Linked DNA regions of Homo sapiens. The protein of the gene in region 1 interacts with the protein of each later gene in a pairwise test. Each region holds a gene or a part of one and is shown on either strand. Other genes may lie near its edges.

The links.
Region 2: the proteins of ANKRD44 (region 1) and PPP6R1 interact in binary tests that used the Homo sapiens proteins (3 or more experiments, as listed by UniProt).

What each region holds. Positions count from the first base shown.
Region 1 is NC_000002.12:197,302,449-197,318,727, reverse strand, and holds the start of ANKRD44 (serine/threonine-protein phosphatase 6 regulatory ankyrin repeat subunit B), read left to right. Parts: upstream 1-7,947; 5' UTR 7,948-8,123; coding exon 8,124-8,150; intron 8,151-16,208; exon of another isoform or gene 16,209-16,279. UniProt on the Homo sapiens protein: Putative regulatory subunit of protein phosphatase 6 (PP6) that may be involved in the recognition of phosphoprotein substrates.
Region 2 is NC_000019.10:55,230,403-55,246,413, reverse strand, and holds part of PPP6R1 (serine/threonine-protein phosphatase 6 regulatory subunit 1), read left to right. Parts: intron 1-735; coding exon 736-922; intron 923-1,011; coding exon 1,012-1,149; intron 1,150-1,163; exon of another isoform or gene 1,164-1,228; coding exon 1,229-1,294; intron 1,295-3,925; coding exon 3,926-4,038; intron 4,039-4,134; coding exon 4,135-4,248; intron 4,249-4,774; coding exon 4,775-4,937; intron 4,938-5,022; coding exon 5,023-5,175; intron 5,176-5,334; coding exon 5,335-5,469; intron 5,470-6,113; coding exon 6,114-6,178; intron 6,179-6,299; coding exon 6,300-6,415; intron 6,416-6,437; exon of another isoform or gene 6,438-6,502; coding exon 6,503-6,588; intron 6,589-6,730; coding exon 6,731-6,820; intron 6,821-6,911; coding exon 6,912-7,009; intron 7,010-9,443; coding exon 9,444-9,501; intron 9,502-9,592; coding exon 9,593-9,771; intron 9,772-14,202; coding exon 14,203-14,339; intron 14,340-14,431; coding exon 14,432-14,612; intron 14,613-14,745; coding exon 14,746-14,816; intron 14,817-14,922; coding exon 14,923-15,004; and 9 more. UniProt on the Homo sapiens protein: Regulatory subunit of protein phosphatase 6 (PP6). May function as a scaffolding PP6 subunit. Involved in the PP6-mediated dephosphorylation of NFKBIE opposing its degradation in response to TNF-alpha.

The DNA.
Region 1 (16,279 bases):
AATTCTAGAAAACGTAGCATTCCTACACGTGATGTTAACAGCGTTCTTGAACAGTTGTTGACTGAAGAGTCACTTGATGAATCTGATTTTTCTGAAATAGATGATTTTGATGTTAGTTCTGTTTAGAAATAACTCCAAGAACAGTTTTTAGATTTTATTTTCACATTGAAAATCAGATTTGCTTCAACCTCAAAGGGCGTGTTTATGTAAAATCAAATGAGTGCAGGCAGTGAGCTATACTTTTTTTTTTTTGTTTGTTTGTTTTGTTGTTGTTGTTGAGATGGAGTTTTGCCCTTGTTGCCCAGGCCAGAGTGCAATGGTGCGATCTCGGCTCACCACAACCTCTGCCTCCTGGATTCAAACGATTCTCCCGCCTCAGCTTCCCTAGTAACTGGGATTACAGGTGCATACCACCACGCCCAGCTAATTTTTTTTTTTTTTTTTTTTTTTTGTATTTTTAGTAGACATGGGGTTTCACCATGTTAGCCAGGCTGGTCTTGAACTCCTGACCCCAAGTGGTCCACCCGCCTCGGCCTCCTAAAATGCTGGGATTACAAGAATGAGCCACCATGCCCAGTCAGCTATACTTTTGTTTCTAAACAAGAAAAGGGTTAATATGAGGAATTGCTTAAATAGTCCTGTTTAATATGGGGAATTGTTTAAATAGGTGTTAGAGGACTGAAAAAACAAAAAGGGAACACAGAGATAGTAACTTTAAGAAGCAGCTACCACCAGTAGGGCTGGGAACAATGGGAAAAGGTTAGTTATTAGAACGAAAAGCTTGGAAGAGAGGCCCTTTTCTTCTCTTCATATCTTCACTCCTGAAGGGTCTGAATCCATTTTTTAATCCTTTTAAAAAATTATAGTAGCTTCCATCAACTTTTATTATAGGATATGGAAGTGCTAAGGGGTACCACAGAAAATCCAGAACATAGTCCTTCCTGTCCCAATCGTCCTCCCTGTCCCCATCGTCCTCCCTGTTCCCACTGTGTTGTAGCAAACCAATTTCCTCTTGATAATGGGAATCAGTAACCCCACCCAGAAAGGTAACCCCTGCTTTTCCTGTTGTTTCCATAGCATGTGGAACCGAAAGTGGACACATCCCAGTCTTAGCTTCTAATTCAATGAAACCATAATTGTGATCCCTGGTGGGAACCCTCCCTTGGGAAGCAACACCCCCAAACCAGCAGAGCTCAAAGCAAAACAGGCACTGGAAGCAAAAACTGTATGAGTGGATTATTGGGTGTAATGATGAAAAGAACCACTTCTACTACAACCACCACTCCCTTCTCCCTCCCAGCCCCACCCTTGATTCTTGGACCTTGTATTTTGGGGGAAGCAGTACTATGTACTGACTCCTGACTCAAAGCATTTTCTGTGTCCTCCAAGAGGTAACTTCACTATGTTAGTGTGGTGTTTCCCAGCTGGTGCTGGAACTCAGTCTTCAGTAGAACTCCATCATCCTTCCAGGTGAGCTGCTTCTGGCTGATGAGGTATTGATAAGACTGGTAAATTCCATTTACATGAGTCCTTTGCTGCATTTCTTTTGCCATGAGATGAGTTCCTCAGAAAGAAGTAATATTGTGTAGACTATATAACAGTGAGTAAGATACAACATAAGTCATGGATGGTAGTTCTGTCAGAAACACTCTCTGGGCCGGGCATGGTGGCTTATGCCTGTAATTCCCGCACTTTGGGAGGCGGAGCAGGCAGATTACCTAAGGTGAGGAGTTCTGAGACCAGCCTGGTCAACATGGTGAAACCCCATCTCTACTAAAAATGTAAAAATTAGCCAGGTGTGGTGGCGCATGCCTGTAGTTCCAGCTACTTTGGAGGCTGAGGCAGGAGAATCACTTGAACCCCGGAGGTGGAGGTTGCAATGAGCCGAGATCATGCTACTGCACTCCAGCCTGGGCAACAGAGCCAGACTCCATCTCCAAAAAGAAAAGAAACACTCGCTGGGCACAAATCCATATCAGCTGGGCATGGAGGCTTACACCTATAATCCTAGCACTTTGGGAGGCTGAGATGGGTGGATCACTTGAGGCCAGGGGTTGAGACCAGCCTAGTCAACATGATGAAACCCTGTCTCTACTAAAAGTACAAAAATTAGCTGGGCGTAGTGGCACACTCCTGTGATCCCAGCTATGCAGGATGCTGAGGTGCGAGAATCGCTTGAATCTGGGAGGCAGTGATTGCAGTGAGCTGAGATCACGCCACTGCACTCCAGCCTGGGCAACAGAGCAAGACCCTACCTGAAAAAAAAAAAAAAAACAAGAAAGGAAAAGAAAACAAATTCATATCCACAATATGTGTCTACTCTAGTGAAGACAAGTAACTGTTCCCTCCATGAAGGAAGGGTTCCAAAATAATCAATTTGCTACCACATGGCTGACTAGTCTCCCTTGGAAATGGTGCCTCTCAATGTGTGATTTCTGATGTTGTCAGATATCAGCCTTACTGCAGAGAAGCCTAAGATTTGAAGCCCAAACATAGTCTTTATTCCTGACTCCATGGCTACTTTGAGCAAGCACTGCAATAGGTGGAGAAAGAGGCCCACTCCACCGAATGTGTCATTCACCTAATTACTAAAAGCCTTCTCAGAGTAGATGCTCTGTGGTGAGCATTCACATGGCACACAAATTCCTCACACTTTGTGCCTATTCTGAAAGGTGCACCCACAAACCTCTTTCCCGGACCACCTCATCTTTCCAAGTTGCTGACCATTCAGCAAAACCATCAATAATTGCCTGTGAATGAGTGTAGATCTATACCTTTGACCGTCTCTCTCAATCCAGACAAAGTAGACCCTAGGTGCGCTGCTGGAAATTTCTTGCACTGAGAAAATTTCCCTTCAGTACTGTCATCGGGGGCATTCCTTATTGAGACTGTGATGCTGGAATAGACCACTTCCAGCTTGTGCCAGTATATTTAGGAGAACTGTCTGTAAATCAGTTAACTGGTCTTAAGAAATTCCCCATGAAGTTGAAGATAAGGAGGCACCAGGAGTAAGTATCAAAGGAATCTGAGCTACCTGCTAAGGCAACTTGTGCTTTCTGGACCTGCTTAAGCTCAGTCTCTTACATACCATTTCCATTTGATGAGGAATTCCTCTTGTGTATGTCTGGTCTTATGGATTGGTAGATTAGATTACACTCAGTTCATAATGGGCAGCTGAGCTTGCAGTCACTTGATTGTCTCATGGCCAGTCATTCAAATTCACTTAGCAAGCTAGGGACCATTCCTCAAATAGAAAATTGTTATCTGCAGAAGAGGGCATGACTTGCTCTACAACTAAGGAATTCTGCATTGTAGATCTAATCAGGGCTCACCAGAGGCTCTATATAGCATCCTTATTTGCCACAGACACTTTAAGTATCATTGGATTCCTCTGGGTCATCAAGTCCTGCTACAGATATTTCTTCTCCCCTTATTCCTAATAAAAAATTCCAGCCTTATGGGTTGCTCTATAAATGGGTCACAGCATCACACTCAGATGTGATACATATTGCCTCTAAAATCCAAGGATACCCAGAAAGTATTGTGTCTCTTTTCTTAGTGGTAGATGGTACAAGGTGAAGTAATTTGTCTTTTACGTTGGGGAGAATATCCTGGTGTTTTCTAGACCACTGGACCTCCAGAAACTTCACTAAGGTGATGAATTTTCTTGGGGTTTATACCCAATCTCTGGCTCACATGTGTGTTGTTAAGGCAGCTAAAATATTTGTTACTTCCTGTTTATCAGGGCCAGTCAGCTCGATGTCTTTAACATAGTGATCAAGACCTGTGCAGATGAGATTATGCCAGAGAGTGGGAGTGTTTACATCCCCTAGAGAAGACTGTAAAGGTGTACTGTTGATCTTGCCATATAAAAGAAAACAACTTTTGGTGAAAATTGAAATAGATAAAAAGCATTTGCCATATCAATAGTGCACACCAGGTGCCTAGGGCTGAGTTGCTTTGTTGCGGTAAAGACAGCATATATAGAATAGCAGCTGCAACTGACATTACCATTTGATTAAGTTTACAACTTAATAACAAATCATAGTTATTCTCTAAGATCTTTTGCATAGGCCCAACAGGTGAGTTAAATGGAGATGTGACAGTATTATCATTCCTGTATCTTCTACGTCTTTTCTGGTGGTACCAATTTCTACATATTTCCAGGGATTGAGCATTGTTGTTGGTTTTCTATTCTGGTATCAAGAGGAAATTCCAGAGGCTTCCATTTGGCCTGTCTTACCATAATAAACTTCACTCTGTGGGTCAGAGAAATGATGTTAGGATTCTGTTAGTTACTGAGTATGTCTATTCTAACTAACAGTTGAGGAGATAACTATAGTTTGGGTCTGCAGAGCTACTGGATCCACACTGATTTATACTTAGTTAAAAATTTCATTTATCACCTACCATAGATCCCCATTTTGATTGGTGGATCCAGTGGTGTTTGCAATCCTCAGGAATTAGCATTAATTCAGAAGCAGTGTCAGTGATCCCTCAAATGTCTGGGTATTTCCTTTTTCCCAGTACTCGCTCAGCCTAGAAAAATACATCAGGTTCCTTTGGATAAGGCTTGGATGAGGATTTGTAGTATATATTTATGACAATGCTGCAAGACCCTCCTGAAGGGGACCAGCTTCCCTTTTAATCAAGGAGCTCTGTGTCTGTGAACTCATTTAGGTACGGAAACTGAATGAAAGATAATTTCATTTTGATGGCTCAAGGGAGCTTTCAGGTGGCAGATGTAGAGTTTTGTCTGTTATAAAGATCAATGGCTATTTCCAAAGTCTGCCCGTCTATTTCATTCCTAGGACAACCTAGGGCACTGCCAGATATACCTGTAGGTTAAGACCTTTAAGTACTACTTTGTCTCTGCTGTCCATTACAGTAAATGTGTCCACCTTGTCTCTGCCAGCTAAGTGCTGCCACTTGGCCATTGCTGTCGCAGGATCCCACTAATATAAAAATCAAGGAGCCATCTCAACGAAAGCATCTCCCACCATCATATCCAGCTACTAGAGAGTTTTTCTGACGTTCTCTCTCGAATGTATTTTTCTTTCCTTTTCTTTTTTTTTCTTTTTGACAGAGTCTTGCTTTGTTGCCCAGGCTGGAGTGCAATGGCGCGTCATTGGCTCAGTGCAACCTCTGCCTCCTGGGTTCAAGCGACTCTCGTGACTCAGCCTCCCAAGTAGCTGGAACTACAGGTGCATGCCACCACGCCTGGCTAATTTTTTGTATTTTTAGTAGAGACGGGGTTTCACCATGTTAGCCAGGCTGGTCTGGAACTCCTGACCTCAGGTGATCCACCTGCTTCAGCCTCCCAAAGTGCTGGGATTATAGGCATAAGCCATGGTGCCTGGCCTGTATTTTTCAATGCTTCAGTATAAAGATCATCATCTGGCTCTCCAGGAATATGTAGGGGTTGGCTGTACAGATTATACATGATAAAATTATTCCAACATTCCCATCTCCACAAATCTTTGGATTTCTTTCTCTACATTATACCAGGGGCATTCTGGCTTCTCAAGCTCACCGAATATAGTCAACTGCTGAGTCTGAGTCTCATTTAATGAAGTAAACAAAGTGTTTGAATCACTGTCAAAGTACTGGCTAACACATTAAAAGCAGACCTTCTGATAAGTGTAGTCTTATCAATAAATTTTGCCAAATCTTCTGCTCCCTATTTTATTTGGAACTTGGCCACGAGTTGTTCAACCTTTCACAAAGTCAGGTCACCTATGACAACACCAATCTTGATATTTGAATTCCTAACACTATATGTTCACATCTGTCTGCATTTGTAATTCTCTCATTCACAAAGCCTCTCCATATAGGTGGAAGCATCTTACTGCTTTGTTTTGTCAGAAGACAAAGAGAGTTGTGTTTTACCACTTACCTACTGAAATACATATTCATTATAAATTACTCTCCTTTAATTTTTCCTTTATTGTACAATTAGGACAATATATTGTTGCTGGTTTTTTTTTTTTTGAAATTTGTATTGGTAGGTAATATTATCCACAAATTACCTTTCAGGATAGTAAGGGGAGTGTTAAAGATACTAGTTACAAAAAGAGGATGATGGTCTGATTGGGTGGAGAACTGCTGCCTCCTCACTTTGGCCCCAGGAACTTAGGTGCAGGCATGTCCGCGATGAATCAAATTGGATCTTGAGTGAATCTTCCAAATTAAGTCATTTGTTATCACTCTTCTGAAAGATGGCTCTATTTAAGTAGAGAATGCAGGGTCCTATTCAGTTTACTTACAAAGCCATGCAGGGTGTTCAGTAAATAGACATACCAATAACAGCAGTGAAGAACTGACTCATAGATGCAACATAAACAATCTGTTGTATGTCTGAGAAAGGCCTTAGAATTTTTTGTTTGTTTGTTTCCATGCAACATTGATAACAGAGGAGTGGAAGCCAGGAACAAAGTTCCTTGGTTCTTCTTGTCTGCATGATCTGAATTATAATCTATAAGACTAATAAAGGTAAATTTGAGATTTAGCTGCTTCGACAACCAGAGTGGCTGGATGGTAAATGTGAGGATATTAATGCTCCTTTCTCTCCTGTCTCATGTGGAATCTTTGGGGGAGGTTCTAAGAGTAGGGAGGAAGAATGGACATTTGGTTTGTGAATATACAGTAGAGGCAGATGTTTGGTCTTGACCAAAGAATTCTGTAGCTCTAGTTTGCTCTTCAAAGCTGTTCAATGCTGCCCTACAGGTTTGCTCTATGGCCTGCCAGGGGCACATGGGGCTGCCTGGGAGCACTTCCTCTCCACTTGCTTACTTAATTCTCCCTTCTCCAGATCTCAACTCCTGTCACTTTCTCAGGGAAGCCTGCCCTCACCCACCAGTCTGGTCTGATTCCTTTGTTGTGGGTTCACTTCAGAAGCATGTTTTCCCTTGAGATCCCTTATCTCAGTTTGTAATTACATTCATTAGCAGAGACTATGCGGTTTATGTTGGCATCTTCTGAGAGCAGGTTATCTTATTTATGCTCTCCGTTTATTCCCGTGCCTAGCCAGTGCCTGACAAGGTAGGGACTCAGTACATAGCTGTTCAATGAATAAGTGTTTGCTCCAAATTCCAGAACTATCAACAGCTACTATGCTTACGAATATGCCCGTTGTATCTGTAGCCCATGGTGTTTGACAGCTGTCTTCTATTTGTTGAAGAGCTTGGTAACTTGGGATTTTGTAGAGATCAGTAAGGACTGGTGGGAACACCCAAAAGACCCATCAACTCGGTGATTTAGGACTGCTTTGCTTCTCCAGGAACTCCACTCCACCCCCACCAGCAAAAACCAAACCCAGGGTGTTTGAATTTAACAATAGTATGTGTGTGTGCATATGTGTGTGTGTGTTTAGCTGGAAAGTGGCTGGAGAACAAGGTGGAAGGGCCAGAGCTTCTGTTCCCTCCACCCATAAATGTTTGGCAAACACCCTGTAAAGAATCACAATGTGTCCGCTGCCTCCTGGCATTAAACAAAGGGAGCATCATAATTGCGGTCCCTGGGATCTTCGGGGCGCTGCCACCACCTGATTCTGGGTTAGGGGAAGGGGGCGTAACCCCATCTCCCCGGTTAAAGTGGACGGCATGTGAGTGAGAGCCTTTCCTGCCCCCTCGGGGTGTGTCCCCGCGGGCTTCCCCACCCATATGTGTGAGACCCGTCAGGGAGGCCCGCGATCCGCCCAGGGCCCGGGGCCGGCCCGGCCGGGCGCCGCGTGCAGGTGCGGAAGGCAGGCGGCGGCCCGGTGCGGGCGCGGGGGCAGCGCCGGGGGCCGGGCTGCGCGGCTCGGCTGCGGGCGGCAGGAGGCAGCGTCGGCCCAGGCGGCGGGCGGCGAGCGAGCCAGCGCGCGGTGATGTCAGTGGCGGCCCGGCTGGCAGCAGCCGGTACTTCCTGTGGAAAGGCGGGCGGGCTCGGCTGCAAACCCCACTAGCCAGTGTCAGCCTCTCGGCGGGAGGAGGCGGCGGCGGAGGAGGAGCAGGGGGAGGGCTGTCAAATTCGGGAGCCAGATTTTTTCCCTTCTCCTGGCAATCCCTTCCGCTTCCCCGGCTCCCGGCGTGACATCTGCGGGCCGGGGACCTGCATGTGTGTGCGCGCGAAGGAGCGGAAGAATGGCAGTGCTCAAACTCACCGACCAGGTAGCGGGCGGCGGCGCCGGCGGGCGGGACGCGCGGGCGCGGGGCGGCGCGGAGCCCGGCGGGGGGATGGGGGCGCGGCTGGAGCGCGCCCGCGAGCTGTTTACTCGCGGCGAAGGGGAGGACTGTGTGCGGCCGCCGGTGCCTCCGAGAGCCCGCGGCGGCAGCTCCCCTCCGCCGCGCCGTCCCCGCCCTGGGCCGTCGGAACTGCGCGCCCGAGTCTGGGGCAGGGCCCGTGGGCGCTGGGCAGCCGGCGTGCGGGAGTGCGGCGGCCGCGGGCCCGGCGGGGCTGGGGAGGGGGCCGGGGGCTCGAGGTGCTCTCGGGACTCGCACCGCGCCGCGTTGCGTGGGCGCCGCCGGCCCGGGCCCCGGGGAGGAGGACGCTGCACGAAGAGGGAGAAAGGATCGCAGACTGGGACCCCTCCCCAAACCTAGCAGGAGTCCTGCCCAGAATGCGGCTCTTGTGTGGCCGGGCTGTCTTTATTTATCCGTTGGATGTGACATCCGACTTCCTCTTTAGTTGCGCCAGGCTGTGTGCGTGGTGCGGGATGGGGACCCCTGGAGACCGCCCTTTCGGATCGGGCCGGTCCCTCTGAGGAGGAGGTGAAGTCGGCTCGGAGCCTCCACTCACAGGCGGTGGGCTACGGTCTGCCTGTGTCTACCAGCTTTGTTGGCTTTCCTTGCTGAGACACCACACAGGGCAGCTCTGGAGTCCTGGCTTGGAGAGGTGGGGTTATTTGCTGAATCGGATTGACAGTCCTCGCCGCAGGTCTGTGGAATGGTAACAGCCACCTTCGCGGACTCTGCTGCTCTTACATTGACACTAACAGGCACCAAACCAAGTTGCATGACAAAACTCTTTGCAGCTCTTTCCACGAAAAAAGGAAACGGCTTGCTACCCCCACCCCCGTTTATTCGTGGGTAGTGAAAGGAACTTTGTTTTGGGGTCCTGGTAGGCAGAGAGGCAATCTTGACTTTGACTACAGGGTCAGACTTGCCAGCCCTTGGTATTAAATACCTCAAACTTGTCCATGGGTTGCATCTGCTGCCTTGCGTTCTCCAGTTAGTATCCAGCCAGAACATCTTGCAACTGAAGTGCAGTCCGTCACCACAATGATTTGCAATGATTTGTTCTCCTGCCTTTTAGATTCAATTTTTTTAGCTTGTTTTTCCTAAATATTTACAGGTGTTTGGCGGGGTTGGTGATGGGGAAATCACTGAGTTAAAATTCATGTTATTGTTAAATTTAGTAAGAAGAGCAGCTGGTACTTGTGATGAATGTATTTGTTCTCATTGGTTCCAGAGCATTTAAAAGTGTAAGTTGATATCAGGATTTCCTTCACCTTTTGGTCACATACTTTGCCAACTGTTAGACATTTGCGTATTTTAAATCCTACAGTTTTAGCGTGTCTTGGGCCTGTCATCTTTGCTAGTACACGTTGCTGTACTTGTCTGTTAATCCCTAGATCTTCAAAGTACAAAGAATGGTTCTAATAGGTATTGTTATCACATATAAGAAAGAACATCACATAGAAGTTTAGAGTTGTAAGGACTCTAAGGATGATCTAGCCCAAACCCTTCATTTTCTAAATGACAAAACAGATCTGGAGAAGTGAAGCAAGTCTTCCTCAAAGAATGCCAGCTATAGGCCTGCAGGACTGGGACTAGCTCTTGTCTTCTGCCTTCCAGGTGCTTGTACTTTCTGCTACAGTTGGTATAGGATAGCTCCATCATCTCATTGGATGTGTTGTAAGGGTTACAAGAAAACATCTCTTCCTAGATCAAGATCAACCCTAGTGAGAAGTGTATTACTTGGTCTTACAAAGAGAGGAAGTTATTCTTCAGGGCTTATCAGAGCAGGAATTTCAAAGATGTTGCCTTTTAAGATGTTTCCAAGTATATTTCCTTCCTTCCCCCAATAAACTAGTATGAGTATGGAGAGAAAGGAAGAGTCACACAACGTTTATTTGGTTCCATCTCCAGATACGTAAAAAGAACCTAAGGCGTTTTAAGATTCAAGAACTTCTGAAAATGTCCAGTCTATCTTGGGACAAAGTCAGAAGGAGATGGGGTGGGGAAGTGGCCTGGGTGGGGTGGGGTGGTGAACAACGATGGTTTCTGTGTAGCTTTAGGTCCAGGAAGTAAGTGTGTGGTCTTTCTTGCCTTATATAGTCTTACCTTTTCTGTTTGAGACTCAATTCTTAGAAGTCAGTTCTTAACCTCACAGATTAACTTTTAAAACCATTTGCTTAGACCACTACTAGAAGAGTTTTGCTCCATCATTGTGGGCAGGGAGCCGCCCGCCTGCTTGGAATCCCTGCCTTAGAGTTTGTACAGGAGTACCTTGCTCTCCATTCAGCTTCTAGTAAAACAACCACTTCTTAATTTCTCCCTCCTTTTTTTTTTTTGTGTGTGTGTGTGTGTGTGTCAGGGTCTCACTCTGACTCGATAGTATGATCATGGCTCACTACAGCCTTGGCCTGCCAGGCTCAAACATCCTCCCACTTCAGCCTCCCCAGTAGCTGGGACTATGGGCGCGTGTGCCACCACACCTGGCTAATTTTTGTATTTTTTGTAGACACAGAGTTTCGCCATGTTGCCCAGGCTGGTCTCAAACTCTTGGGCTCAAACAGTCCACCTGCCTCAGCCTCCCAAAGTGCTGGGATTACAGGCATGAGCCACTGTGCCTGGCACCTCATCTGTTGAATGCCCTATTTGTGAAGTGAATCTTGATTTTTGCTAGGCCTCTTGGATTTTTTACTGTTGATAACCTGAAACACAAATTGTCTGGATTTGTCTTTAAATGTGGCAAAAGTCAGGGGTGACAGATGATGACATTTTCTCTCCAGCTAAAGCTGGGTGCAGGAGCTTGCTAGGTGAAGCAGACACTACTTCAGCAGTCAGTCCTGTAGTGACCTCTCAATCTTGTAAGAGAAGGAAAATGTTTTTTCCTAACTCTTTTTTTTTCAGGAGAGTAAAAAGAAAAAGGGAGAGACCAGTGTAATTTTTAGTCTTTTTTTTTTTTTTTTCACTGTAAAAAAGGAACTGGGAGCTATCACTACAAACAAACAAACTTGGCATTTAGCACTTCTGCATTTGTAACTTTTGTAACAGTGTCCCTTCTGTTTTCCTCTTCACAGGGCACACATAATTTTTATTGCAGCCTTAGGGGGCACTAACCATCCTGGTTTGTGCAGATTGACTGGTGTCCCAGCATATGGGGCTAAAACCGGGAAAATTCCAGGCAAACTGGGAGGAACTGGTTACCCTGTGTAACATAGAACATCCTCAACTATGTCATTAATATAATAATGTAATTAGTTCCTTGTATGTGGACATTAGGAGTTTTATATTTTTTGGTAAAGTGAGATAATTTTAAGTTTGGGAAAGAAAATTTTGTTAAATACAGATCTAAGGCATTTGACTCAAAGATAGCCATGAAACCTTTTTGAAAATTGATTTGATATTGACTGTTTTAGGGTGTTCTTTATGTCATATAGTTAAAGGCACTGTAGTCATTTTAAGTGTGTGGTCGTATCTTCAGCCTGGATCTCTACCCGAAATTTATTTTCAGAGTTATGAAGCTAGGATGGTAAGTTCTGTTGCATGTTTAAAGTGTCCACTATTCTTACCTGCATTTGTTAATGATGGCAGAACACTACTTTCATCTCGGAGGCTGCCTGCAGACAAACTGTTTCAGCAGGTGGCCTTTTTGGAGCTTCCTGCCTGGAGGCCTTCTGGTTTGGTGTTCCCTTGCCAAGTCCTAGTTCACACTTGAGTCACCTACCTTCTTGCCAAAGGCAGTGGCTGGCAGCGGTGGCAGTGGCAAGAGACTAGAAATCCTGTGTAACTTTGGGAGCAGGATTTCTAGCCCATAGTGTGGGGCCTTGGGACGTGTTACATATTTTACTGGGCTGCCCTTGTTCTTCCATGGCTCCCTAGAGCACTGGTGTTAAAGCAAACAGTATGCTGTAGTCCTGTCTTCAGCATAGAAGAAGGGAAAAGAAAGGCTTTATTTAGAACCTTTTCTGGTTGTTTCAGGACCCAATCACATGGTTTTGAGAGTGCACTTGAGGCTGGTGTTTCATGGCAGAGACCTAATAATGTCACACATTTATTGTGCTCTTATTGTATACTGGGCCTTTGCAGTGAATCATGTCTTAATCCTCATAGCCACACTAGGAGGTAGGTGGTGGTGTGATTTCTATTTTATGGATGAGAAAACAGGAATAGAGAGGCTAATTGACCGGTTTAGGGTCATACGCCCAGTAAGTGATCTAGCACACTGTCCTACCCTGGCAGTCTGATTGCACAGGTGGGGCTCTGACCACAAGGCTATACTTTTCATAGTTGAAAGGGCAGTGCAGCCATGGGATTAATGGGTGTCTGATCTTGTTTACAGAGAAGCCATTGGATGAACAGCGTTCCCTGAACTCCTTCTGCCTCTTGGGCCAGACCCATTTCTGTACATAGTAAGGAGCTGCTCTGAGGCCTCTGCCCCTGCCTGGCTTATACCTGGCTTTTCCCATTAGCCTCTCCATTTCCTCACCCCGGTGAATGATGTGTTGGTAGTTCAGTGATTTTTTTCATATATATATATATATATATATATAAAACGAACTGCGGTCATTATAGGAAAAGCAGAAAGCTAGATGAGCAAACCAAAAAATTTTAAAACCATCTGAAGCCTGTATACTCAAGAGATAACTATTCTTGACATTTTGATATGTTTCCTTCTAGTCTTCTGTCTGGGTAGCCAGTTAAAATTTTTAAACTTTTCGTGTGATAATATCATTACCTTTCACTTGTGCACATAGCTGATATCTGTGTTCTCTACACCAATGACTTTTCCAAATAAACTTATTCTTCTCTTACATATATGATTGGCTCTTTAGCCAACGCCAGCACATAAGCTCTAGCTCTGGATTAATGGAACTAACTTTTTTCTTTTTCTTTTCTTTCTTTCTTTCTTTTTTAAGATTTCAACTTTTTACTTCCTCTTTTGCTGTAAACAGAGAGCAAATACGAACTCAAAAAGGCACAAATTGTTTGTACCAGAAACAGAAATGAAAGATTCTTTAAAAAGATTTGTATTTCTACAAGATAATGTGAATTTTTATAGGCTAAAGTATAGCACGAAATAATTTAAAAACAGGCAGAGCTACAGAGATCTGATAATTTTGTGATTTCCAAATTTGTTTAAGCTATGACACTCCTTTTTTCCCCCGAAGAAATTTCATATTGAAGCTCAATATATAAAAAAGATTGGCTTGGACAGTGGTCCCTGAGTCCCTCTTGAAAACTGGTTGGGTTTAGTATTATTTGAAAGCCCCTTTGTATGAGAAAACTCCTGGTGATTGGTTAAGTGTTTTTTGTTGTTGTTTTTGTTTTTTTTCCTGACACATCATGTATGAAACAACATTTATAAATGTTTGTGAATGATTAGGAACTACACAGAACTAGGATGACTATATCATTTTTATCCGTTTGAGAATCATAGGTGATACTACTCAATATGAAGCCACAAATAGACGTGAGCCAGGACTGTCCTGGGTAAACCTGGATATGTGGTCATCATATATTCACATAGACTCCATGTTTGCTCACCACAGGCTTGACAGTGACAGTAAACTAGTTTGACTAGCAGACTACTCTGTCTCTTTTGAGTCAGGTCTACAGTGGTGCAGGTATTACAAAGATTGTTTTATGACCTTGTGCAGAGTTGGGAAACAGCTTCCATGTCACACATGAGTTCTGATCGGTCCAGGACTTGCAGGTGTAATGTGATAGAAACATTCTGACTCTTGCAGTCAAGGATCCGAGAAAGTGTGATTGATTACCAGTGTTTGCTATGGGTACACGGGAAGGGAGAAGTGACATATGTTGTACATTAGCCAACCCTTGGCAAGACATGTTAACCTCTGTAGGCTTCAGGTTTCTCTTTGTAAAATGAAGAGGTTGGACTGGATGCCTTTATGGTGCCTCAGCTCTGCCCTCTCCCTTCTGTGACTTGGTGCCTGTAATGGAGACCGATGCTCTTCACATGGTTTGTGTTATAGCATTTCTTACAAATGTGCCTATGAAGGGTGTATTTGCAGATGAGCTCTAATAAGGCTTTCCAGGTAACAAAGTCAAACAGCTTCAAGTTCCAGAGAAGGATTTTAACCCATGTCAATGACTTAGGACTAATTCCTATTCTCCACCCTACTTCAATTCATAGATAATCTAAGATTACCCATTTTATTTATTCTGTATTTTTATTTTTTTGGGACAGAGTCTCGCTCTGTTTCCCAGGCTGGAGTATAGTGGTGCAATCTTGGCTCATTGCAACCCCCGCCGACCCCCTCCTGGGGTTCAAGTGATTCTTGAGCCTCAGACTCCCGGGTAGCTGGGATTACAGGCTTGCACCACTACGCCCAGCTAATTTTTGTATTTTTAGTAGAGATGAGGTTTCACCATGTCGGCCAGGCTGGTCTCAAACTCCTGGCCTCATGTGATCTGCCTGCCTCAGCCTCCCAAAGTGCTGGGATTACAGGGGTAAGCCACCACACCTGGCCTAAGATTGCCCTCTTTATAGATTACTCCTTTTTAACCTTTTAACCAATATATTATTTGGCTTTGGCTGCTTTCAGAGGTCGGGAATGCAGGTATTTGCCCTTATCAGTGTTTATGTTTGTAAATATGTTGGTAGCCTAAGAGGTTGAAATTAATGATTCATGAATCCAGCTTGTAATTATGATATTCATAATTTTTAAGGATCTTTTCACTTGCCTCCTCTTTTGAAAACTTAAAATTTATATTCTATAAAGTGAGCTAAGCAAATAAATATATAGTCCACTTTGGGCTGTTTCAGGGATTACTAAGTCGATAATTGTTTGCATTTCTTGGTTTTTGTTTGCTTAGAGTCCCCTTGCTCCCATCCTGGGGAGTCTTAAGCATCCAAGCATAGCTTTCTAGGATATCTTTTATACCAGAAGACCATTTTCCCCTAAGAAAGCTTTCAGAGCTTTTAGTAAAATTAGGGAGACTTGTGGAAACATCTGTTTGAGCCTAGACATGGAAATTAATTACAATTCTAACCTGTCTCTAAAAGTTTTGCTTTTTTTATTTAAAAAATTTTGTTTTGCTTTAGTTTGTTTTAAAAATAACACTAGATTGGGAATCAGAAGACGTGGATTCTACTCATGGTTCTTCTAACTGTTGTATGGTTTGGGGTAAGTCCTGGCCTTCGTTTCTTTGTCTGTCAAAATGGGAACAGGTAGAAAATTCTCTAAATTCTTCCAAGCTCTAACATTCTAAGATAGCTCCTCACATATTTCAATGTCAGTCTTTTCTCATCTTGTGGAATCTCAGTTCAAAAAGTATCTGCCTTTTATGAACTTCTGATTTTCTCCCAAGTGTGTTTGTGGCAGCTTTAAAGTTTCCCAGGTTTGGTAAACACATCCTGAGTTTTGTCTAAGGGTGAGGAGTCCTTTCTCCAAGAAGTTTGTCTTCTGGCATCTCCAGGAGCCTGGCTGTGGGGACACAGAACCCCTGGGGCTGTTCTCAGTGTGGTTCTTTGAGAATCCTCTTGAACTTCTTACAGGATAAAGGGAGCAATCCTTACAAAGGCCATGCTTGTCTCTTGTGAGCTGGGGCCCACCTTAGCCTTCTTCAGAGGTGTTGCTTTAGCAAATACCTTGGGTCCTCCCAGGCAAAATCCTATTTTATTGAACCCAAATAACATGTGCATCTAACAAGTTTATTTCTGAAGGGTTGGCCCAGAGTTGGGTGCAGTTGACATGGTGACCACAGACTTTCTCAAGAAAGGAAGAAAATTCCTACATGTAATCACCAGCCTCTGTATGGTTAGTCTCTGTGGAGGAGACTTGTTTTGGTGTCTAAGACTGGCAAGATCAGGAAAAAGGAAAGTGAGCATAAGAGAAGTCTAAAGACAGAAAGCCAGGCAGACATTCAGGTCAGCCGGGACAAATCAACCAACCAATTATTGTGAAACAATGGCCTCCAAAAGTAGGTGTGGCCTACACCCCAAGGATGAACACAATACTTTATTGAGTTGGAGTTTGGGAAAGAGAATATTGGAATTCATATTTCTTTAAATCATTCTTTTAAACTTTTAATTTTTATGTAGT
Region 2 (16,011 bases), on another chromosome or scaffold:
GACTCACTTTATCACCAGGTTGGAGTGCAGAGGCATGATCGGCTCACTGCAACCTCCTCCTCCCAAGTTCAAGTGATTCTCCTGCCTCACCCTCCTAAGTAGCTGGGACTATAAGCCAGCACGCCCAGCTAATTTTTGTATTTTTGGTAGAGACAGGGTTTCGCCATGTTGCCCAGGCTGGTCTTGAACTTCTGACCTCAAGTGATATGCCTGCCTCAGCCTCCCAAGGGGTACCTCCCCACAGTCCTGGAGCAGACTGTGGCCCCTCAGGGCCTTGAGTGGCACGCTGGTGGGGCAGCTCTTGTCTTGGAGCCGTCAGGCACCGTGTGAAAGTTTGGAGGAGGGAGGCAGGAGGTGAGGTTGGAAGTTGAGCAAGGTTCCAGGAGTCAGCCGGAGCTGGGGCAGCATACGGGGTTGCAAGTGAAGCCGCTGAGAGGCAAAAGGGATGAGTGTTAGCTGCTGGGGGATTGGGAAGCGCAGGAGCTTCAGGACCAGCTTGTCTTGGGGGTGGTAAGGAGCCTAGGATGGGATGGTTGGGTGTTAGCAGGGTGGAGGAGGCCTGGTGTGGGCCCTTGTTTCTGCGTCACCCTGTCCTCTGCCCTTTCCCCTTCCTGGACAGGGGTCTCTGCAGTTCCCAGAAACCCAGTGCCCGGTGCAGAGAAGAGGGTGGAGCCTTGCCGCCCCCTGCCCCCGGCCTCCGACCCGAGCCCCCACCCGCCTGTGCTTGCCTCCCAGGTACCCCAGTGTGGCCTGCGAGATTCTGACCTCAGATGTGCCCCAGATCAATGATGCCCTGGGTGCTGATGAGTCCCTTCTGAACCGGCTCTACGGCTTCCTGCAGAGCACCGGCAGCCTCAACCCACTGCTGGCCAGCTTCTTCAGCAAGGTCATGGGCATCCTCATCAACCGCAAGACAGACCAGGTGCCCTGGCCCCCACCCTGGCGCCACCGTGGGTTGAGGGGTGGTGGCTGGGCCAGGCCCTGTGCATGACGCAGCCCGTGTGCCCCCAGCTCGTGTCCTTTCTTCGGAAGAAGGATGACTTCGTGGACCTGCTGCTGCAGCACATTGGCACCTCGGCCATCATGGACCTCCTGCTGCGCCTGCTCACCTGTGTGGAGCGGCCTCAGCTGAGGCAGGATGTTGTCAATGTGAGCAGGGCCGGCTCCTCTGGGGGTGGGGGGCTGGGCGTGGTGGACAGCGATGCATCCCTCGCCTTCTCACCCTCAGTGGCTCAACGAGGAGAAGATCGTCCAGCGGCTGATTGAGCAGATCCACCCGTCGAAGGATGAGAATGTGAGTGCTGCCGATGCCCCTGCGGATTCCCCTTAGAGTTCCTTCCCCATGCCCACTTCCCCACTTTTAAAAGAGGAATTGGGGCTGGACGCAGTGGCTCACGCCTGTAATTCCAGCACTTTGGGAGGGCGAGGTGGGAGGATTACTTGAGCCCATGAGTTTGAGACCAGCTTGGGCAACATAGTAACACCCCGTCTCTACGTAAAAACTTAGCTGAGTGTGGTGTTGCACACCTGTAGTCCCAGCTACTTGGGAAGCTCAGGTAGGAGGATTGCTTGAGCCGGGAGGTCAAGGCTATAGTGAGTCATGATCACACCACTGCACTCCAGCCTGGGTGACACAGTGAGACCCTGTCTCAAAAAAAAAAAAAGAAAGAAAAGAAATTGGTGAGAAAAGAGAGCATTGAGAACCAGGTGTATCCATGCCCTTTGAGAAAAGGAAAGAAACTTGACTCAAGTGATTCTCCCACTGTGGCCTCCGAAAGTGCTGGAAAGGTTTTTTTCATGACCCAGGAACTTGGCACATAATGCCTTGCAGGGAGGGGCCCTCCTCATCGCCTGTCCAAGCGCTGGCCCCACATCCGTCCCTGCCCACCCTGGCCTGTGCTATTGCTGGGCCTGGCAGCTTTTTCCCTGTCTCCTGCCTGATTGAACCCCTTGCTGTCCTTCTAAGTGTCCGTCCAGCAGCCTTGCTTTCAAGCGCCCTCACATCCTCCCCTTTAGCTCTGGGGGACCCCATGTCCATGTGTTTCTCCAGCTTGGGTCTCCATCTCTGTCCTGGTGCCCAGCACAGGGCCTAGTGTAGAGTGGGTGTTTGTCAAGAGCCTCAGATATCCGAGGCCACTGGGAGCAACATGTCCTTCCCAATGCCAACTTCTGCCTCAGAGGCGCACAGGCTTACAGAGCAGAGATGGCTCTGGGCTCACCCAGGCTGGGGCCTGTCCCTGTGAGGACCCTGAGGCATGGCCCAGGGCCACACTGCCAAGCCCTGGCAGCTGCCCGTTGGGTAGACTCAGCTCTGCTTATGCTTCTCTCTTTTCTCTCTTTTGTAGCAGCTTTACTGAGATGTAAATTGCACAGCATACCACTCACCCACCGAAGCTTACGATTCAGCGCTTTTAGGGTATTCAAAGCGTTTATCATCTTGTTGAATTTAGATTATTTTTTATCACTCCAAAAAACAAGTCCTGCCTGTAATCCCAGCGCTTTGGCAGGTGAGGCTGGAGGATTGCTTGAGCCCAGGAGTTTGAGACTAGCCTGGGCAACATAGCAAGACGTTGTCGCTACAAAAAATTGAAAAATTAGCTGGCATTGGTGGTGCACACCTGTAATCCTAGCTACTCAAGAGTCTGAGACGGGAGGATCTCTTGGGCCCAGGAGTTCAGGGCTGCAGTGAGCTGTGATGGCACCACTGCGCTCAAGCCTGGGGTGATGTAGAGGCCGTGTCTTTTTTTTGAGACAGTGTCTTGCTCTGTTGCCCAGGCTGGAGTGCAGTGGCGTGATCTTGCCTCACTGTAGCCTTGACCCCCCTGGGCTCAAGCAATCCTCCTGCCTCTGCCTCATGAACAGCTGGAACTAGAGATGCACACCACCATTCTTGGCTAATTTTTTTGTATTTGTAGAGATAGAGTTTTGCTATGTTGCCCCGACTGGTCTCAAACTCCTGGGCTCAAGTGATCCTGCCACCTTGGCCTTTCTTTTTTTTTTTTTTTTTTTGAGATGGAGTCTCGCTCTGTCTAGAGTGCAGTGGCACGATCTCGGCTCACTGCAGCCTCCACCTCCCAGGTTCAAGCGATTCTCCTGCCTCAGCCTCCCGAGTAGCTGGGACTACAGGCGCCTACCACTGCGCCTGGCTAATTTTTTTATTTTTAGTAGAGATGGGGTTTCACCATGTTGGCCAGGCTGGTCTCAAACTCCTGACCTCGTGATCCACCTGCCTCGGCCTCCCAAAGTGCTGGGATTACAGGCGTGAGCCACCGCGCCCGGCCCCACCTCGGCCTTTCAGACTGCTGGGATTATAGGCATGTGCCATCACACCCAGCCGAGACCCTTTCTCCAGAAAAAATAAAAAAGATGCCCTGTGTTCATTAGCAGCTCCTCCTGATCTTCCCCTTTCTCTTCTTAGCCCCCGGCAACCACCAGACTATTCTGTCTCTGTGGATTTGTCTTTGGACATTTCATATAATTGGAATCATGTACTACGTGATCTGTGTGTGGTTTCTTTCTCTAGCATGATGTTTTTGTGGCTCATTCATGTGGTTGCATGTATCAGTTTCACTCCTTTTCCTGGCTGATTAGCACTCTCCTGTGTGGATAGACCAGCTTGGGCATATTCACTCATCAGTCAGAGCCTTCTGGGTCATTGTGGGCGGTGCTGCCAGCCCTGTATGCGGTCATGAGGGCCTTGTGTGGATGCCTCCTGTCCTGGGGAGCCTTCCGGGCTTCCTGTTCTCTCCACCATCTTCCCTCCAGCAGTTGGTGCCTCTGTGCCCTCCTCCTTCGTAACACGTGTCCCTGTGTCTGGGTGACCATTTTTCCCTGGATGGTCAGCTCATGGGAGGGGCTCCCAGCACCAGGCTGCAGAGGGCCCGGTGGCCCGACCAGGATCCTCACCTGTCTCTCCCCGTTCCAGCAACATTCCAACGCATCCCAGTCCCTGTGTGACATCATCCGCCTGAGCCGGGAGCAGATGATCCAAGTCCAGGACAGCCCAGAGCCTGACCAACTGCTGGCCACCCTGGAGAAGTGGGTGTGCGGGCAAGGCTAAGGCTGGGGGGAGCTGACTTGGGGAAGCCCTGGGCCCCTGGCCCCTCACCCTGACCCCTGCCCCTGCCCCCGCAGGCAGGAGACGATTGAGCAGCTCTTAAGCAACATGTTCGAGGGGGAGCAGAGCCAGTCTGTCATCGTCAGTGGGATCCAGGTGCTGCTGACCCTGCTGGAGCCCAGGAGGCCGAGGTGAGGGATACGGGCCACAGACCATGCATGCTGCCCATCCCCAGGGGCTCTCCGGCCCCTCAGAGGCGGGTCTCGGTGTCCACCAAGAGAAATCCCCGCCCGTGGCACCTTGCTCTGTGGCTGCCTGTGCTCCCTGCACAGTGGACAGTACGGGGCCGAGGGAGGAATCTTCTTGTCTGCTTTGACAAGTGAGGGCACTGAGGCTGAGGCCACTGCTGCAGCTTGTGTTGGGAGGGACCCCAGGCCCCCGTGCCCCTGCCTTACCACACAGGCCGCTAGCCTGTTGGGTTTGCCTTCCCGCCTCCACCCCTCACCCGTGCTCTCACAGTGGACTGCCAATGCTGCCGCCTGGCGGGCTCCCCACCCCAGCCAGGTGTTGTCTGAAGGGCCTCAGAAGAGAGCGGCGCTGGGGGCATGTGGCTCCTCGTTTTCCTCCAGACCCTGCAGACGTGGTCCTTGTGCCTACTCCTGTGTGGGCGCACAGGCCATCTAGGCTCACTCCGCCTTCGACCCTGCCCTGCTGCAGGTCCGAGTCCGTGACCGTGAACAGCTTCTTCAGCAGTGTGGATGGGCAGCTGGAGCTCCTGGCCCAGGGGGCCCTGGAAAGCACTGTGTCCAGTGTGGGCGCCTTGCACGCCCTACGCCCGCGGCTCAGCTGCTTCCACCAGCTCCTGCTGGAGCCTCCCAAGGTCAGGGGTGTGGGTTCTGGTCCTCGGGGAGGCGGGGGAAGCAGGAAGGGCAGCCCTTGGGAATCAGGCCTCCCTGTGTCTGCAGCTGGAGCCGCTACAGATGACATGGGGCATGCTGGCTCCGCCTCTGGGCAACACGCGGCTGCACGTGGTCAAGCTCCTGGCCAGTGCCCTGAGCGCCAATGATGCAGCCCTGACGCACGAGCTCCTGGCACTGGACGTGCCCAACACCATGCTGGTGCGGGGACTGGACCGGGCTGGGGGTTCAGGGGCTGGGGCGGGGACTGGACTGGGCTGAGGGTTCGGGGGCTGGGGTGGGGGCTCGGCTGGGGGCTCAGGGGTTGGGGGCTCGGCTGGGGCGGGGCCTCTCTGGTACCAATCCTGTGTCCTCCCATAGGACCTCTTCTTCCATTATGTCTTCAACAACTTCTTGCATGCCCAAGTAGAGGGATGCGTGAGCACCATGCTGAGCTTGGGGCCACCTCCTGACAGCAGCCCTGAGACGCCCATCCAAAACCCTGTTGTGAAACATGTGAGCTGGGACTCCCTGGTCCCCCTCCTTCTGGGCCCATCCCCTGTGGGCGCACCCTCTCCAGAGGCCTACCCCTCACTCCTTCCTCCCACAAGTGTTTGTTGGGTAGTGTTAGGTGCCAGCGCCCAGATGGGGTGTGGGAGGCATGGCCAGGGAGAAACGCGGATGAAACATGCAGGTGCAGGGAGCAGTGGGCTCCTGACTTGAGCTGAAGAGCTAGGGGTGGGCGGGAGCAGACCTGCGAGCAGCTGAGTGTGCATGAGTGCGCACACGTGCGTGTGTGAGCATGTGTCAGTGCAAGCGTGTGTGAGAGCATGTATGTGTGTGAGTGCACACGAGTATGTGAACATGTATGTGTGAGCATGTGTGTGTCCGTTAGTGCATGCATGTGTGTGTGTGTGTGTGTGTGTGTGTGTGTGTGTGTGTGTGTATGCACCACATATTCTTTTGTAGAAAGACCAGAGAGACTTGGGTGGATGCCAGGGTCCCAAGCCCCAGCTTGCATCCCTCCTTCCCATCCCCGTCTCTGGATGAGCGGGGGCCTGGTGAAGCATCTGCTGAGGAAGGGACCCCTGCTGCAGTGCAGAGCTCCCCACATGTGTGCAGACCACCCCTCCAGGCCATCCTGTCCCGCTCTCCCGCAGCTGCTGCAGCAGTGCCGCCTGGTGGAGCGGATCCTGACGTCCTGGGAGGAGAACGACCGTGTACAGTGAGCACCTGCTGCCCTTCATGTCTCCAGGGGCTGGGGCTGCCTGGATGGGGGGCCGGGCTGGGGCTGGGCATCCCTGGGTCCAGTCCTGGCTTGCAGCCGCGGCCTTCACTCTTGCCAGGTGTGCGGGAGGCCCTCGGAAAGGCTACATGGGTCACCTGACAAGAGTGGCCGGTGCCCTGGTGCAGAACACGGAGAAGGGGCCCAATGCAGAGCAGCTGCGGCAGCTGCTGAAGGGTGAGGGTCCCCAGGCCGGCCTGAGGGCTAGGTGGGGGGCTTGAAGCCCCGAGATGCCTCACGTCTTCACCCCTCTCACCTAAGCAGAGCTGCCCAGCGAGCAGCAGGAGCAGTGGGAAGCCTTCGTATCGGGGCCCCTGGCGGAGACCAACAAGAAGAACATGGTGGACCTGGTGAGGCCCAGCTTCTCTTCCTGCACTCCTCCTGCTGCTTCTCTCTCTTGGGCCAGTCTTAGCCTCCCACCGCCACCGATAGCTGCCTGCCCACCCTGGTCTGGGGGCTCCAGCAGGCCCTGACGCCCCCTCCTCTCCCCAGGTGAACACCCACCACCTACACTCCTCCAGTGACGATGAGGACGACCGGCTCAAGGAGTTCAACTTCCCTGAGGAGGCTGTGCTGCAGCAGGTGGGCGTGGGGCTATGTGGGGCTGTGCTGGGCTATGCTGGAGTGGGGTCCTGCCCAACTCCCTCCAGCCCTAACCTCCGCACCCCCACAGGCCTTCATGGACTTCCAGATGCAGCGCATGACCTCTGCCTTCATTGACCACTTCGGCTTCAATGATGAGGAGTTTGGGGAGCAGGAGGAGAGTGTGAAGTGAGTGTCTCCTGCGCAGGGTCACAGCCCTGTCCTGCCTCTGCAGCAGCAGGCGCGCCTACTTGTATCTGTCCCCTGCACGCACCTACATGCCCTGTGGGCTCAGCCTGCAGCTGTGGCCCCTCCTGGGCACGCGTTGGCCGTGGCCTTGTGTGTGTGTCTGCAGCCTCGTGTGTCTGCCTCCTGTTACATGAGTTCCAGCTCTGCAGTCTCTTCTCTCCGAGAGGCAGGCCATGAGGGTGGGGCACAAACATCTTCTGTGCTGGGGACACAGAGCGGGTCCCTCCCACTCCTGGAGCTAGCCTTAGGGGTTCCAGGCGGGAGGGGCTCAGGGTAGTGGGGACCAGCAGTCCTGGCGCAGGGACTGTGGGGCAGAGCTGCACCTCCATGGATGCCCTCTGGCTCAGGAGTCTGCCAGACATGGGGGTCCAGTTTTCCCCTCCACAGGCCTCGGGGTAACAAAACTTTTTTTTTCCAATTACCAATTCTGCTTGTTTTGATTTGTGGGTCAACCACATCTTAATATCAGTCACCTCTGGGTGTTATGATCATGAACTTTTCTGAGTTTCTTGCCACAAGCATCTGTTGCTTCTGGAGTCAGAAAAAAGTGGCTGGGCGGAGTGGATCACACCTGTGATCCCAGTACTTTGGGAGGCCGAGGCAGGCAGATCACCTGAGGTCAGGAGTTCGAGACTAGCCTGGCCAACATGGCGAAACCCCATCTCTACTAAAAAATACAAAAATTAGCCAGGCGTGGTGGCAGGTGCGTGTAGTCCCAGCTACTTGGGAGGCTGAGTTAGGACAATCGCTTGAACCTGGGAGGCGGAGGTTGCAGTGAGCCGAGATTGTCCCACTGCACTCCAGCCTGGGCAACAGAGCGAGACTCTGTCTTGCTCCCCACGATGAGCTCATTTACGGCCAGGGAGACTGAGGCCCCAGGACATAGCTGGTTAGTGTGTGGGAGCTGGATGGCTGCCCATGGCTGCCCCGGGGTCCCTGTACAGCACAGCGTAAGGGACACCACGATGAGGGATAGTCAGCTGTTCCTGGCTTAGTCCACAGCTGGACAGAGGTCCTCTCAGATGCAGACGTGATATCCTGTGTTGGCTGCTTCTGTGCCCAGCATGGAGACTTGCAGAGCGTTGGTCTTTGTGGGTCAGTGGCCTGTGCCGAGACCCCTGGAGAAGATGCTCAAGTGAAAACTGGGCTGGACACAGTGGCTCACATCTTAATCCCAGCACTTAGGGAGGCCGAGGCAGGAGGATCGCTTGAGTTCAGGAATTTCAGCCCAGCCTGGGCAACATTGTGAGACCATCTCTGCTTTTTTAATTAAAAAAAAAAAGAAGAAAACCCCACCCTGGCAGGAGAATGAAGGGACTGACTGGTAGATGGCATTGGGGTCACCAGCTGCCCCTTTCGGGATGAAACTGTTAGCTTTTCCTCTACCAAGAAAATTCCAGAGGGGTTAAGAAGTTAAGTGAACAAAACTAAACCCAGAAAGATTTCCGGAATGGAAAGTGGATGACTGGTTTGATCATCTCAAGGCTGAAGATGCTGCCCCGCATAGCTCCTGTAGCAGAAGCCAGGTCAGCTGAGGCTGCCAGTGCCACGGGGACATGGGCTGCCCTGCCCTAGACCCACTGTGTGCCCAGCGTGGTCTCTGCTCCGCTGCTTCTCAGTGTCTAGGAGGGACTAAGGACACTTGCCTTGGAAGGTGGTTGTGAGAATGAAGTGCGTGAGTAATGTCTGTCACATACTTAGTGTCCTTTAAGAATTAACTGTCCTTTATCCATTGATCTTTGTGGCAGAATTTTTCATGAATTTGAGACAAATGATCCCTTGAACTGTCCGTAACACGTGGGACAGAATGTGGACCCTGATCATTAGACCCTCGTGGTGAGGGAGGTGGGGCCCTGGCAGGCACAGTTTAAGTTTTGACGTGATTCTTTTTCCCATAATTTAGAATTTCAGCCGCGGACCGTAGACATCTTGAGGTTAGGGGATGTGCTTTATTGGGCTGTAGTCTCACATTCTGCTTGTGCCTGGCTGGTGTGAGTGTCAGCCTCCTACAGATGCCCCAAGGATGGGGACAAGGGCATGGATCTGAATCCCTCTCTGGCACCTGTCCTTGGAAGAGCCTGAGGAGAGTCGCTTAACATTTCCGAGCCCCATTTTCTCACTTCTAGAGCCAAGGGAAACAGCCTACCTCAATGAGTGGTTTTAAGGATTTAAAGTGATCATATGTGAGATGTTGATATTCATGTATGCGTTGCCCCTTAGGACCAGTGGTTCGGGTTGTGTGTGAATTTGCAGATACCAAATCTGCAAGTAATGAGGGTCAGCTCTGTGTTGAGTGAAGAAAGAAATGTGGCCTGTCCTGTGCTGCCCCCACCCCCAGGTGGACCTTCTCACCATGCCTTGCCTTCTCTCCTAGCGCACCTTTTGACAAGACAGCCAACATCACCTTCTCCCTCAATGCTGACGATGAGAACGTGAGTACTGCCCTGTCCCCTGGTTGTGGCGGGTGGAGGGGTGTGGGGCTGTGGGCAGTGTGGCCCATCCTCCCACCCCTGTGCCCTGCAGCCCAACGCCAACCTACTTGAGATATGCTACAAGGACCGCATCCAGCAGTTTGATGATGATGAGGAAGAGGAGGACGAGGAAGAGGCCCAGGGCTCAGGGGAGTCTGATGGAGAAGATGGCGCCTGGCAGGGCAGCCAGCTGGCCAGGGGGGCCCGTCTGGGCCAGCCACCTGGTGTCCGGTGAGTCCCCCTCCAGTTTCCCTTCTCCAAGCTTCCACCACACGGCAGGGCCAAGGGGTCCCCCCAACACATTTGGACTGAGGCTGAAGTGAATGAAGAAAATAAGGAACCTGCATTGGTGTGTGTATTAGTTGGGGGCACTTTCACTTTTGAGTGATAGAAATCTAATTCAAGGCCAAGCATGGTGGGCTCATGTAATCCCTGAGTGCCTGTAATCCCAGTACTTTGGGAGGCCAGGGCAGATGGATTGCTTGAGCTCAGGAGTTTGAGACCAGCCCTGGGCAACATAGGGAGATCCTGTCTCTACAAAAAATACAAAAGTTAGATGGGCATGGTGGTGTGCACCTGTAGTCCTGGCTACTCGGGAGGTTGAGGTGGGAGGATGGCTTGAGCCAGGGAGGCAGAGGTTGCAGTGAGCCGAGATCATACCACTGCACTCCAGTCTGGGCAACAGAGCCAGACTTGTCTCAAAAAAAAAGGTAGATGATGCATTAAGAAATCAACAAATTAGCCGGGCACAGTGGCTCAAGCCTGTAATCCCAGTACTTCGGGAGGAGGCCAAGGTGGATGGATCGCTTGAGCTCAGGAGTTTGAGACCTAGCCTGGGCAACATAGCGAAACCCTGTCTCTACAAAAATTACCTGGATGTGGTGACGTGTGCCTGTAGTCCCAGCTACTTGAGAGGCTGAGGTGGAAGGATCGCTTTACCCTGGGGGGCGGAGGTTGCAGTGAGTTGAGATCGCACCACTGCACTCCAGTCTGGGTGACAGAGACCTGGTCTCAAAAAAAAAAAAAAAAAAAAGAATCAACAAATTAAAAAAAATCAGCCGGGCACGGTGGCTCACGCCTGTAATCCCAGCACTTTGGGAGGCTGAGGCGGGCGGATCACGAGGTCAGGAGATCAAGACCATCCTGGCTAACATGGTGAAACCCCGTCTCTACTAAAAATACAAAAAATTTGCCGGGCGTGGTGGCGGGCACCTGTGGTCCCAGCGACTTGGGAGGCTGAGGCAGGAGAATGGCGTGAACCCGGAAGGCGGAGCTTGCAGTGAGCCAAGATTGCGCCACTGTACTCCAGCCTGGGCGACAGAGCGAGACTCTGTCTCAGAAAAAAAAAAAAAAAGGAATCTAATTCAAATGAGTTAAGTTATGAAAAGAAAGGGATAATCTCTGTGGCTGAAAAAATAGGCAGGTCCTGAGGTATGGCTTGGTCTGTGTGTGTCTCTCTCTTCCCGCCTCCCTGTCTCCTTCCTTCATCCCTTCACTTCACTTCCTCGTGTTAGCTCTCACACGTTTTCCTAGAAAGGGGGGTAAGATGGTCCCAGGCAGCTTCTCTCTTCTCTAATTCCAGTAAAATGAGAGATGATGACGTCCCTCTCCAATCAGGCTGTGATGACATTTTAGTGCAAATGTTACATTGTTTTTTTTTTTTCTCTTAATACTGGCCGGCCCCAGAGTCGCTGTGATGAAATGGGTTCATGCCATGTAGATTTGACAGCCTGAACACTAAGTCATCATCTGCAACTGAGTTTTTGACTCATGACTTTTGATTTCGGAATTAGGCTGTTTTCACTTTTTATTGACATGTAACATGCGTATAGACAAGTGTACATACAGATCCTGAGTGTGTGGCCAATGGATATCCTTCCTCAGTGCCCAGACCCAGGAGCAGGACCTTCCCAGTACCCACATCCCCTCTGTTAGCCAGTATCCTCCCTTCTGAGGGTAAAGTTGTCCTGGCTTCTAACCCTGTAGATGAGTTTTGTCTCTGTTTTCACTTGATATAGCATACAGCATCTCCTTTTATGTCTGACCTCTGTTGCTCAACACTCTGCTTGTGAGCTCCTTCCCTGTTGTGTGTTTGGGTGCCCCTGGCTCTCGTGCAGTGGGGCAGTGCCATGCATGATGAGCTGCAGCTGAATTGCTTGTTCTGCAGTTGACAGGCCTTTGGGCAGGTTCCTGTTGCTCGCTGCTGTGAGTGCAGCCGCTGTGAGTGCGGCCGCTGTGAATACCCTTGCACGTGTTGTTGGTGCACAAGTGTGTCACTGCCAAATCCAGCATCTTGACTTAGCCCTCTCTTTTCTTCTAAGAGTTTTATAGCATTATTTCTATGGTTTTCCATTCATTTTGAGCTAAATTTTGTATATGATGTGAGGTGGTCCACCTTCATCCCTTTACATATAGATAACCAGTTTTCCCTGCACCAGTTGTTGAAGACACTGTCCTTTCTCCACTGAATCATCTTGGCACCTGTGTAAAAAGGAAATATTTGACCATATGTATGAGTTTGTTTCTTCCCTCTCTGTTCTGTTCTATCAGTCTGTGTGTTGTTTTTATCCAGTACCACACTGGCCTGGTTGCTGTTGCTTTATAGTAAGTTTTGAAAATGGGAGGTTTGTTGGGCACGGTGGCTCACACCTGTAATCCCAGCACTTTGGGAGGCCAAGGTGGATGGATCACCTGAGGTCAGGAGTTTGAGACCAGCCTGGCCAACATGGTGAAACCCCATCTCTACTAAAAATACAAAAATTAGCCGGCTGTGGTGGGTGCCTGTAATCCCAGCTACTCAGGAGGCTGAGGCAGGAATATCGCTTGAACCTGGCAGGCAGAGGTTGCAGTGAGCTGAGATCGCACCATTCATTGCACTCCAGTCTGGGTGACAAGAACGAAACTCCATCTCACAGAAAAAAGAAAATGGGAGGTTTTAGTTTTCCAACCTTGTTCTTCTTTTTAAAGATTGTTTTGCCCTATTTGGGATTTCTTGAGATTCCATATGAATTTTAGGATCAGCTTGTCAATTTCAACCAAGAAGCCACCTTGCGTCTTCTAATACGTGAACATGGATGTCTTTTTATATAGGTCTTAAAATTTCTTTCAACAATGTTTCGTAGGTTTTAGAGTATGAGGCTTTGTATTTCTTTTAAGTTTATTCCTGTTTTCTTCTTTCTGTTACTATTGTAAATGGAATTTTCTTGAAATTGTTTTCAGATTGTTACAAGTATATGAAAATACAATAGGTTTTTGTATGTTGATCTTTCATCCTGCAACCTTGCTGAACTAATGTATGAGTTCTGATAGTTTTAGTGGACTCCTTAGGATTTTCTATGTACAGAATCATGTCATGTGAATAGAGTTCATTTTCCTTCCTTTCAAATCTGGATGATTTTAATTTCCTTTTCTTGCCTGGTTGCCCTGGCTAGCCTCCGGGACAATGTTGAACAGAAGTGGCAAGAACAGGCATCCTTGTTTTGTTCCTGATCTTAGGGGGAAGCATTCAGCGTTTTGCCATGTAAGCATGCTGTTAGTTGTGGGGTTTTGTAGATGCCTTATGTTAGGTTGAGGGGCTTCCTTTATACTCCTTAGTCGTTGAGTATTTTAGTTTACTTTTAACTATATACAGATATATTACTTTCCAGTTAAAGTAGTCAGTTACTCTGTTAAGACAAAAATATTGGGTCAGCATTTTAGACATAGTATATAGTCCCATACTGCATCTTTGGGTCAGCGATGGACCACATATGACAGTGGTCCCGTGAGATTATAATCCTCTATTTTTGCTGTATTTTTCCTATGTTTAGATACACAAACATTTACCATTGTTAGAATTGCCTGTAGTATTCAGTACTGTAACATGCTGTATAGGTCGGTAGTCTAGGAACAATAGGCTATACCACAGAGCCTAGGTGTACAGGAGGCGCCACCATCCAGGTGTGTGTAAGTGCACTCTAGAATGTTCACACAATAGCAAAATCGCCTAATGATGGCGTTTTTCAGAGTGCACCCTCGTTGTTAAAGCTTAGTTTTAGTGTTACTTTGCTTACCCCTTCCCCGGTTGATCAGCACGTAGGTTGCTTGGATTTTCTTCATGCTCACAGGTGTGTGTTAGTCAACATTCAGCCAGTGTTTTTGGAGCAGCTATGGGTGCCTGGTGGTTTCTCAGGGCTGAGGATACAGCAGTGGCAAAACTCAGCCATCTCTGCCTTCTTGGAGTTTCTAGTTGGAGGGAGAGAGTAGTGTGAAGCCTCTGTCCAGAGGGTGGGCCTGCTGGTGGGAAGGCCTGTCACTGTGGTGACCGTGTGAGGTGACGGCTGGGAGGTGGCTTGAGAGCTGGTGAGTGGGTCTGTCTGCTCTGGTTGCCATGGCTGAGGCTCAGCCCACTTCCCCAGGGCCTGCCCTCCACGGATGACTGGCGACGGACGGTCTCCTTACGGCCGCATTCTGTCCCTGCCCGCCTGTGTTCTTGCCGTTGGCTCAGAACTCCCTCTCCCAGCCTCTCCTGGTGTCGTCACACCCCAGGCTCCCTGGACCCTTCTGTGACCTGCCTGTCATCCCAGCCCGCTCTCCTTGGGCTGACCCTGGGCTGCAGGGAACAGGATGGGTGTCGGCCGGTCTGTCCCACACAGCTAGCTGACGAGGTGGTTTCTGGGGCAGGAGTGGAGGCAGCACAGACAGTGAGGACGAAGAAGAGGAGGACGAGGAGGAGGAGGAAGACGAGGAGGGCATTGGCTGTGCAGCCCGTGGAGGGGCCACCCCTCTGTCCTACCCCAGCCCTGGCCCTCAGCCTCCAGGTGAATGAATGGGCGGTGTGGTCAGGTGTACACAGGGCTGTCTGCCTGCTACTGAGTTCACCCTCCATCCCGCTCCCCCACCTCTATCCCAGGCCCCAGCTGGACAGCCACCTTTGACCCAGTGCCTACAGATGCCCCGACCAGCCCCCGAGTCTCCGGGGAGGAAGAGCTGCACACTGGGCCTCCAGCCCCACAGGGGCCCCTCAGTGTGCCCCAGGGCCTCCCCACTCAGAGCCTGGCCAGCCCTCCTGCCCGTGACGCCCTGCAGCTCAGGTGAGAACCGGATGGAACGGGCTAAATGGTGCTGGTATCCCGAGGCCAGGAGGTGGCCATGGGGTCCCCGTCCTCTCATAGGCTCGAGTGCTAACCCTAGCTGCCCCCTTGGGCTGCCTCTCTCGCCTACCAGGTCTCAGGACCCCACACCCCCCTCAGCACCTCAGGAAGCCACAGAAGGCAGCAAAGTCACGGAGCCCTCAGGTGAGCCCCGCTTTGCCCTGCCCACCCGCGGCCCTGGGCAGAGAGAGCAGCCTGGCCAGCTCCGAGCTTGCTGGGAGCTGCAGCTGAGATCTCTTATCCCCCACAGCCCCTTGCCAGGCCTTGGTTAGCATCGGGGACCTTCAGGCCACCTTCCACGGGATCCGTTCTGCCCCCAGCTCCTCGGACAGGTGAGCAGCGAGGTGGGGCTGCCTAGTATCGGGAGAAGTCTTTTCTCCTCTTCGCTGAGGTGGGCTCTGGGTTCATCTTGTCCCTGAGCTGCTCCAGGCCTCCTTTGCAGGACCCCCAGGCGCAGCCTCATGTTGTGCCCCAGCCCCTTGCACTCTGTAGGCTGGTTCTTCTCTTAGTAGCCTGGGATGCTTGGGGCCCTTGAGCCCCAGGGTTGGGAAGGGCTCGTTGGAGGGTGTGAAGGATTGGGAGGGTGAGAGCATGCAGAAGACCCTTTGGGGCTGTCTCAGCCGGCCTCGAGTACCTCCTCCACAGGGACAGGAGGCGGGAAGAGGGGTGCTTGTCTTCCTGTCCAGGGCTGTGCTGTCCCTCCACGCTGAGCCAGCTGCGTCCTCGGGAGGCCCCTCCCCGTGGGGCAGGTGGCAGACACACACCCAGTGAGCCGACTTCAGTCGGGTGGGATGTGAGGGTGTCAGCAGGTGACGGTGGGGGCCACGCTGACAGCCGCACCTGCCTCTCACCCACAGTGCAACCAGAGACCCCTCTACCTCTGTCCCAGCCTCCGGGGCCCACCAGCCCCCCCAGACCACAGAAGGGGAGAAGAGCCCAGAGCCCTTGGGGCTTCCCCAAAGCCAGAGGTGAGCACCAGGGCAGCAGGGCGGGGGGGTGGGGGTGGGGCTGGTGGGGCAGGAAGTGACCTCTGCACATCCCCTCTCTCCCCTGACAGTGCCCAGGCCCTCACGCCTCCTCCGATACCCAATGGCTCTGCCCCGGAAGGGCCTGCATCCCCAGGCTCCCAGTGAGTGTGGCTGCAGCCTCGGGCTGGGTAGGTGGGGCTGGGCCTGCTAGACCCTCACACGACATCTCCCTCTGTTTCCAGATAGCTGCCTGGTGCGGCAGCGGCGGCCAAATCTTCCGTCCTCCCGTGGATCTCCCGGGGTGGGGGCAGGGCGGGTCCCACGATGGCCCCCATTGCCCTCATCACCCTGACACCCCCACATTCTCTCCT